2 linked regions of the Homo sapiens genome follow. The protein of the gene in region 1 purifies or fractionates together with the protein of each later gene. This does not show direct contact. Each region holds a gene or a part of one and is shown in the gene's direction. Other genes may lie near its edges.

What was found.
Region 2: the proteins of ARMH4 (region 1) and BMPR2 purify together in Homo sapiens (affinity purification with mass spectrometry; one large-scale study listed by BioGRID and IntAct). This does not show direct contact.

The regions. Positions count from the first base shown.
Region 1 is NC_000014.9:58,145,666-58,149,487, reverse strand, and holds part of ARMH4 (armadillo-like helical domain-containing protein 4 isoform 1 precursor), read left to right. Parts: intron 1-3,822. UniProt on the Homo sapiens protein: May modulate immune response and may play a role in inflammation. Down-modulates STAT3 signaling throught direct interaction with IL6ST, resulting in the inhibition of phosphorylation of STAT3 at 'Tyr-705'.
Region 2 is NC_000002.12:202,382,656-202,386,477, forward strand, and holds part of BMPR2 (bone morphogenetic protein receptor type-2 precursor), read left to right. Parts: intron 1-3,822. UniProt on the Homo sapiens protein: On ligand binding, forms a receptor complex consisting of two type II and two type I transmembrane serine/threonine kinases.

The DNA.
Region 1 (3,822 bases):
ATTTTGACCCCAGCCTACTTACCCTCTTCCCTGCCAGCTCTGGGGCTGCTTTCCTCCTGGGGGACCATGCTTTTCTTTGTGGTTACTTACTCCTTCTCCCTCCTTCCATTGTGATGGAACATGCTGCTGAAAGGATTGTTTGTCATTCAGCTATTTAATTTATGGTGAAGTATAGCTGCAGCCTAGATCCTAAAGCCAATATAACAGACCAGTGATGATTGTCAGTAGCACAGTGAATCAGAAACGTGGTACCTTAATGCCATTTGCCACAGCTGGGTTAATAGAGTGAGAGTCTTTATAAGCTCAGCTTTAAGTAAATACAATAGTATTGGCAATAAAATAGTGTTGGCAGTAACAGCCTTAAGGATTTAAAAAAAGAAAAAGTAAGACAATGATAAATTAATCATTGAGGAATGGTCATGAAAAGGACAAAGTGGAAAGATTGTTAAGACACAAAATGGAAAGATTATTAAGACACAAAGATTATTAAGACACTATCCCCCTCATCAGAGAATCACTAATTGTATTTCAAAAGGTGAGATGGTATTTGGCAAGCATGTTGACTTGACGCTGTGAGACTTGTTACCTGTAACTGTTGGTCTGTTGCGTGTGTGTGTGTGTGTGTGTGTGTGTGTGTGTGTAATAAACTCTGAAACCTTAAAATATAGCAGAAATGAGAACACATAAGTTATTGTTATTGTTAGAGTGACAGTTAAATAAGTAGCCAAAATTGGCTAGGTATTGAATAAAACATACAAGTAGACATGGTTAGACCATGAAATGTCATTAAAAAAATCTTACAGTACAAAATAAGGACTTGAAACGTTCTTTTTCATATTCTTAAATGGTTATTTATATTCACATCATGCCAACAAATATTTATGGAATCTCTCCTCTTTGTGCCTACCCTTATTACTAATTATGTGGCAAACAAAGGAATGGTAAAGACTAGTGTTTGTATGCAAAGAACATAATCTCATTTGAGGTGCTGAGACTTAAATGACAATTCATGCTACAGGAGCTAGGAGAAGGGTGGGGAAAGAATGGGCCAGAATGGGATGTGACCTGGGAGGCCAGGGTTTGGATACCTGGGTAGGGAACCATGGGTCGTACAGTGTCATTCTCAAAACTTGGGAGCCTGAGAGCTGAGCACGGTGGCTCACGCCTGTAATCCCAACACTTTGGGAGGCCGAGGTGGGTGGATCACGAAGCCAAGAGTTCGAGACCAGCCTGGCCAACATGGTGAAACCCCATTTCTACTAAGAATACAAAAATTAGCCGGGTGTGGTGGCACATGCCTGTTATCCTAGCTACTCGGGAGGCTGAGGCAGGAGAATTGCTTGAACCTGGGAGGTGGAGGTTGTGAGCCGAGATCATGCCACTGCACTGTAGCCTGGGCGACAGAGCGAGACTCCATCTCGAAAATAAAACAAACAAAAAACCAACTTAGGAGCCTGAGATGAGTATGGCACATAAAAGTGCTATGTATGTGACTGATGATGGTGTTTATACTGGGCACCAGTGGTATGGGGTTGCCTTATTAGAGATGGATTTTGGCAATTGCATATTTGGGGACATTATATGCTGTGTTTTGGGAAAGCAGAGAGTTGTCTGGCAAAGGTAGGGACGTTGAATTCTGACAGAATCCAAAAGATCAAAAACAGACACTATCCCTTAGGCAAGTTACTTATCCTCTACCAGCCTGTTGTTTTCCTCATTTAAAAAGTGGAATAACGACAGTATACCTCATTAGGTTGTTGTAAGGATTAAATAAGATAATTTCCACTGGGCACTTAGAACGCTTGGCACATAGCAGCTCCTAAGTGGTAGCTGTCTTTGATTGATTATTGCAATTTTTATTCTTAAGAATAAACCAGCTGGGTGTGGTGGCTCACACCTATAATCCAAGCAATTTGGGAGGCTGAGGTGGGCGGATCATGAGGTCAAGAGATTGAGACCATCCTGGCCAACATGGTGAAATGCCGTCTCTACTAAAAACACACAAACTAGCTGGGCGTGGTGGCGTGCGCCTGTGGTCCCAGCTACTCAGGAGGCTGAGGCAGGATAATCGCTTGAACCTGGGAGGAGGAGGTTGCTGTGAGCTGAGATCTCGCCACTGCACTCCAGCATGGAGACAGAGTGAGACTTCCTATCAAAAAAAAAAAAAAAAACCATCTGGATTGTATAAAATAGATTGGAGAGGAGAGAGCCTAGACAAGGTTATCAATGAAGAGGCATTTAAAATAACTATCCAATGAGGTGATCAGAAGTTACAATTCCAAAAGAGATTATGAGAGGAGGATCCACAGCGGTTGTGAATCTAGAATGTAAAGGAGAGAAGAGTTCAAGGTGGCCACCAAAGTTCAGATGAAGATGGTTGTGTTTGAAGTGTCATCAAAGTAACTTCCAGTTGACAATGAAAAGCCAAGATGAGGTAGCTTTCTTCACCTACCCCATAGCAGCTCTCTGTAGTTTTTGTGTATATCATAAGAAAAGGAAAATATAAAGCGAACTGTCACCAGTTTCTTGGCACACTCTACAGCCCTCCTGTGTCTTGAGCACTCTTGGGGCGATGCTCATTGTGCCTTAATATTATATATGAAACTCAGTTGACACTGGAAGTAGTAGCTTCATCACTGGTGAGAATGATTTAACATATTGGTTTCCCTTTTGTGTCTTCATTTTGGTAACATACTGAAATAGCAGTATTCATTTTAGTTGGAAAAAATATTGACCAAGTGCTTACAAAATCTGATTAAGTCTAACCAGATGGCCAAGGCTGGTATTTTTTATGTTGCCTTTCGTTTGTCTTTGAAACTTGAATATGCCTAGACTTGACAAAGAAACAGATTCTGGACTGTAGCTATGTAAGATTGTCAAAGATAATGCCTGACAGAACAGCTTATCTTGCTCACTGGTGGCAGAAATGCAGTAAATTGTTTAGAAGACTGCCAAGCTATTAGGATAGATAGCTTGATAGCAAATGATAGACAAAGTGCTACTGACCTGCTCTGAAGGAGATGCTTTTTAAGCTATTCAAAGCTGATATCCAACATCAGTTGGTAATTTGGTTAGAGCTTATTTATCTGAATTAATTTGCATGGAGAGATACAGTGAAAAGAAAGCAGCATCCAAATACGCAGTGGGAGGGAAAAGGAAGAGGAATGTTCTTTTTGTTTGTTTGTTAAACATTCTTATGATTGAGTTAATTGAAGATAATTAAGACACAGAATTCTAATATGCAATGGAATCTCTCCTCCTTCCACTTCTCCCAGCAAAGTGGGCTATAGACATTCATCTGTTTGTTCAGCCAATATTTACTGAGCATTTCTTCTGTGCCAGGCACATTGCCAGGAAGGGGATACAGTGTTGAGGAAAAAGGAAAGGCTCATAGCCTTCAAAATATGGTTGCAGATGGTTATTTAGGTTTAGGAATATTGTTGAACTGACAACAGTCTTCTCGTTTATTCTTGAGCATCATGTAACTCCCATTGTGGGACATTAGAAAAATGGGAGTGACTACATGAACCTATACTGGGCTTTGAAAGATGGAGAAAATCCTGGAATTTGAAGGTCATCTATCAGTTTATCTGAGTTCCAGACGTGTTTTCTGTTATTCTTTTTACAGGCTGTCTTTTTTCCTTTTAACGTATAGTTGTTGCTTTCGATAGTGGGGAGAGGGAACATATGGCCTCAATACACAGACATAGAAAAAGCTTTCATCAATGCCTTTGAAAAGGGGGGAGAAAAGCAAAGGCTTGCGGTTCACCCCCACTCTTTCTGTTGTATTTGAATTTAGAAAGCAGGTGGCTGACAATCACA
Region 2 (3,822 bases), on another chromosome or scaffold:
GACTCAAATAACACACCAATAACTTTTTCTTTGTCCTAGTTCCTTCAACTATAAAGTATGTAGTTTAAGAGGTATAGTGGGAAGACCACTGTTGGGAGTTAATGAGACCTAGATTCTATATGATTCCGGGCAAATAGGTTACTTAACATAGTTTTCTTACTTGTAATAATATGGGGTTGTACTTGATCATTTTGAAATACAGATTCATGGGTACCCCACTAGACCTACTGAATCCAAATCTCTGGACAACGAGCCTGGGAATCTGCCTTTGATGCCCTCATCAGCCAGTAAATTTTAGGTACCTTTGAGAACTACTGGATCTAAGATTCTTTCTAACTCTCAAGTTCTATAACTTTATTTCTACTTTTTGTGGTAATTACTACTTAATCTATATCTTTTATTGCTTAATCTGGTAAACATTAGGAACAAACATTTCTTAATTTGTGCATTAAGCAATTACCCAAAATCTTTTCCTTTTAAAAATTTGCAGTGTGGCCTGGGCGAAGTGGCTTACTCTGTAATCCTGGCACTTGGGGAGGCCAAGGCAGGCGGATCACTTGAGGTCAGGATTTCGAGACCAGCCCTGCTGTACAAAAAATACAAAAATTTGGCTGGGAGCTGTGGCTCACACCTATAATCCCAGCACTTTGGGAAGCCAAGGCGGGCTGATAACCTGAGGTCAGGAGTTTGAGACCAGCCTGACTAACGTGGTGAAACCCCGTCTCTACTAAAATACAAAATTAGGCCAGTTGCCATGGCTCACGCTTGTAATCCCAGCACTTTGGGAGGCCAAGGTGGGCTGATCACCTGAAGTCAGGAGTTCGAGACCAACCCGGCCAACGTGGTGAAACCCTGTCTCTACTAAAAATACAAAATTAGCCGGGTGTGGTGGCACATGCCTGTAATCCCAGCTACTCGGGAGGCTGAGGCATCGCTTGAACCTGGGAAGCGGAGGTTGTGGTGAGCCGAGGTTGTGCCTTTGCACTCCAGCCTGGGCAACAAGAGCGAAACTCTGTCAAAAAAAAAAAAAAAAGAAAAAAACAAAATTAGCCACGCGTGGTGGTGCATGCCTGTAATCCTAGCTACTCAGGAAGCTGAGGTAGGAGAATCACTTGAACCTGGGAGGCGGAGGTTGCAGTGAGCCGAGATCGTACCACTGCACTCCAGCCTGGGTGACAGGGCGAGACTCCATCTCAAAAAAAAAAAAATTACTATTTTCAAAAGCACTAATATTGGCTGGGCCTGGTGGCTCATACCTGTAATCCTAGCACTTTGGGAGGCCGAGGCTGGTGGATCAACTGACGTTAGGAGTTTGAGACCAGCCTGGCCAACATGGTGAAACCCCATCTCTACTAAAAATACAAAAATTACCCGGGCGTGGTGGCGGGCGCCTATAATCCCAGCTACTTGGGAGGCTGAGGCAGGAGAATCACTTGAACCCAGTAGGCAGAGGTTGCAGTGAGCCAAGATTGTGCCACTTTACTCCAGCCTTGGCAAAAGAGTGAAACTCCATCTCAAAAAACAAAACAAAACAAAAAAACACTGATATGAAAGATTATATGCATGCCTAGAATCACAATGCCCAACACTGTACCTTAACCCTGCCTTGTGCATCAGTAACGTTTAAAATACATTACCCAAATTATCAAGATATAGTGCAAAATGTGTGCAATCATTCACGTCTTAAATGTGTCGACGGTGGACTTGGTGGAAAAATTATGAGACATGATAAAGTATTGTGCCAGAGGCATTGGCCTAAGAATTTTAGATGGAGTTAGGTATTTGGGACAGTTAGGTATTTGATCCACATCTCTTTCTGGAAGGTTAGATGCAAATGGAGGTTGAGAAATTTCAGTTTCTTTCTTTCTTTCTTTCTCTTTCTTTCTTTCTTTCTTTCTTTCTTTCTTTCTTTCTTTTTCTTTCTTTTCTTTCTTTTCTTTCTTTCTTTCTTTCTTTCGACGGAGTTTTGCTCTTGTTGCCCAGGCTGGAGTTCAATGGCAAGATCTCTGCTCACTGCAACCTTCACCTCCCGGGTACAAGTGATTCTTGTGCCTCAGCCTCCTGAGTAGCTGGGATTACAGGCATGCACTACCACACCCAGCTAATTTTGTATTTGTAGTAGAGACGGGGTTTCTCCATGCTGGTCAGGCTGGTCTCGAACTCCCGACCTCAGGTAATCTGCCTGCCTCAGCCTCCCAGAGTGCTGGGATTACAGACGTGAGCCACCGCACCTGGCCAAGAAATTTCAGTTTCTTAAAACCAGATCTCACTTCCCCTTTCTCCTTCAAGACAGTAGTTTGCCCTTATAATTGGTGTCAAAAATGTACATGATCATGTACTTTCATTCTGCCCCAGTAAGTTTAGTGCAAAATAGGAAAATTTAGAACAAAATGTGTTAATGATAAGTGTGAAGGGATGTATAAATATTTGGCCAGTAATCCAAATTCTTCAGTTTTTTGTTTCATTTAGATGAGGAAATAGTTAAGACTTTCTATTATTATTAATCTGTGTTCAGTCTTTGCTTTTGTAAATAAGAATAGTCTGTGAGCAAATCTATGTAATTGTAGTAGACACACCAGGCTAACCTTTTAGGGCAAGCTTTTTTTTTTGTTTTCATTTGAAAAATTAAGAGAAAAAATATTAATCTTCACACAACCCTAACACTTTTTGTTTTGGTATGTTTTCTTCTAATTAAAAAAAAGATGCTTTTTTTTTTTTTTTTTTTTTTGAGACGGAGTCTCGCTTTGTTGCCCAGGTGGGAGTACAGTGGCGTGATCTCGGCTCACGACAACCTCCACCTCCTGGGTTCAAGCGATTCTCCTGCCTCAGCCGCCCGAGTAGCTGGGACTACAGGTGTGCGCCACCATGTCCGGCTAGTTTTTGTATTTTTAGTAGACACGGAGTTTCACTGTGTTGGCCAGGCTGGTCTCGAACTCCTGACCTCGTGATCTGCCCGCCTCAGCCTCCCAAAGTGCTGGGATTACAGGCGTGAGCCACCACGCCTGGCAAAAAAAAAAAAAAAAGCATGTATTTTTATATGGTTGTGATTTTATAATATCTATTAATTATATCTGTTTTTTTTACATAGAATAATATAGTCATGTATATGTGATCTTAATAACTATCATTTTTTCATAATTGTGTGATATTCCATTGAGTGTATTTGTTATTTACTTAATTCATATTGGGAGATGTTTAGGTTGTTTCCGATTTTCTTCTCTAATAAACAATGCCATATTTAATACTTCTGTGCGTATGTCCTGCTTGTTGTTTGATTTATTTCCAAGTTCTTGTTTTGACCTATCTGTAGCATGAGCCAATTTAATCCTTTTTTTTCATCCTTCAAGTACTTTCTTCATTTGGCTTTTAAGATACTATTCTCTCTTGATTTTTCTCCTACCTCACCAGCAACTTTGATAGTTCCTCCTTATGTCCCTGATGGCTAAATGTTGTGTTTCAGGATTCAGTCTTTAGACCTTTTCTCTGTCTGCACCCACCCTCTTGGTGATCTCATCCAGTTTTATGGCTTTAAATAGCATCTAAAGGCGTACAAGTTTCAAATTTATTTCTATCTCAGACTTCTTTCCTTGAAATTCTGTTGCATGTAGCCAACTGTGTATCTGTCGTATCTACTTGGATGTCTGATATTCATCACAAACTTAACCTGTCCAAAACTGAACTTCTGAAGCTGCTTCACCAGACCTGTTCCTCCTATGTCTTAGCCTATTCAGCAAATGTCAGTTCTATCCTTCCAGTTGTTCAGGCCCCAAATTAGAGATATCTTTGTCTCTTCTCTTTCTTTTTTTCACATTCTTATCCAAT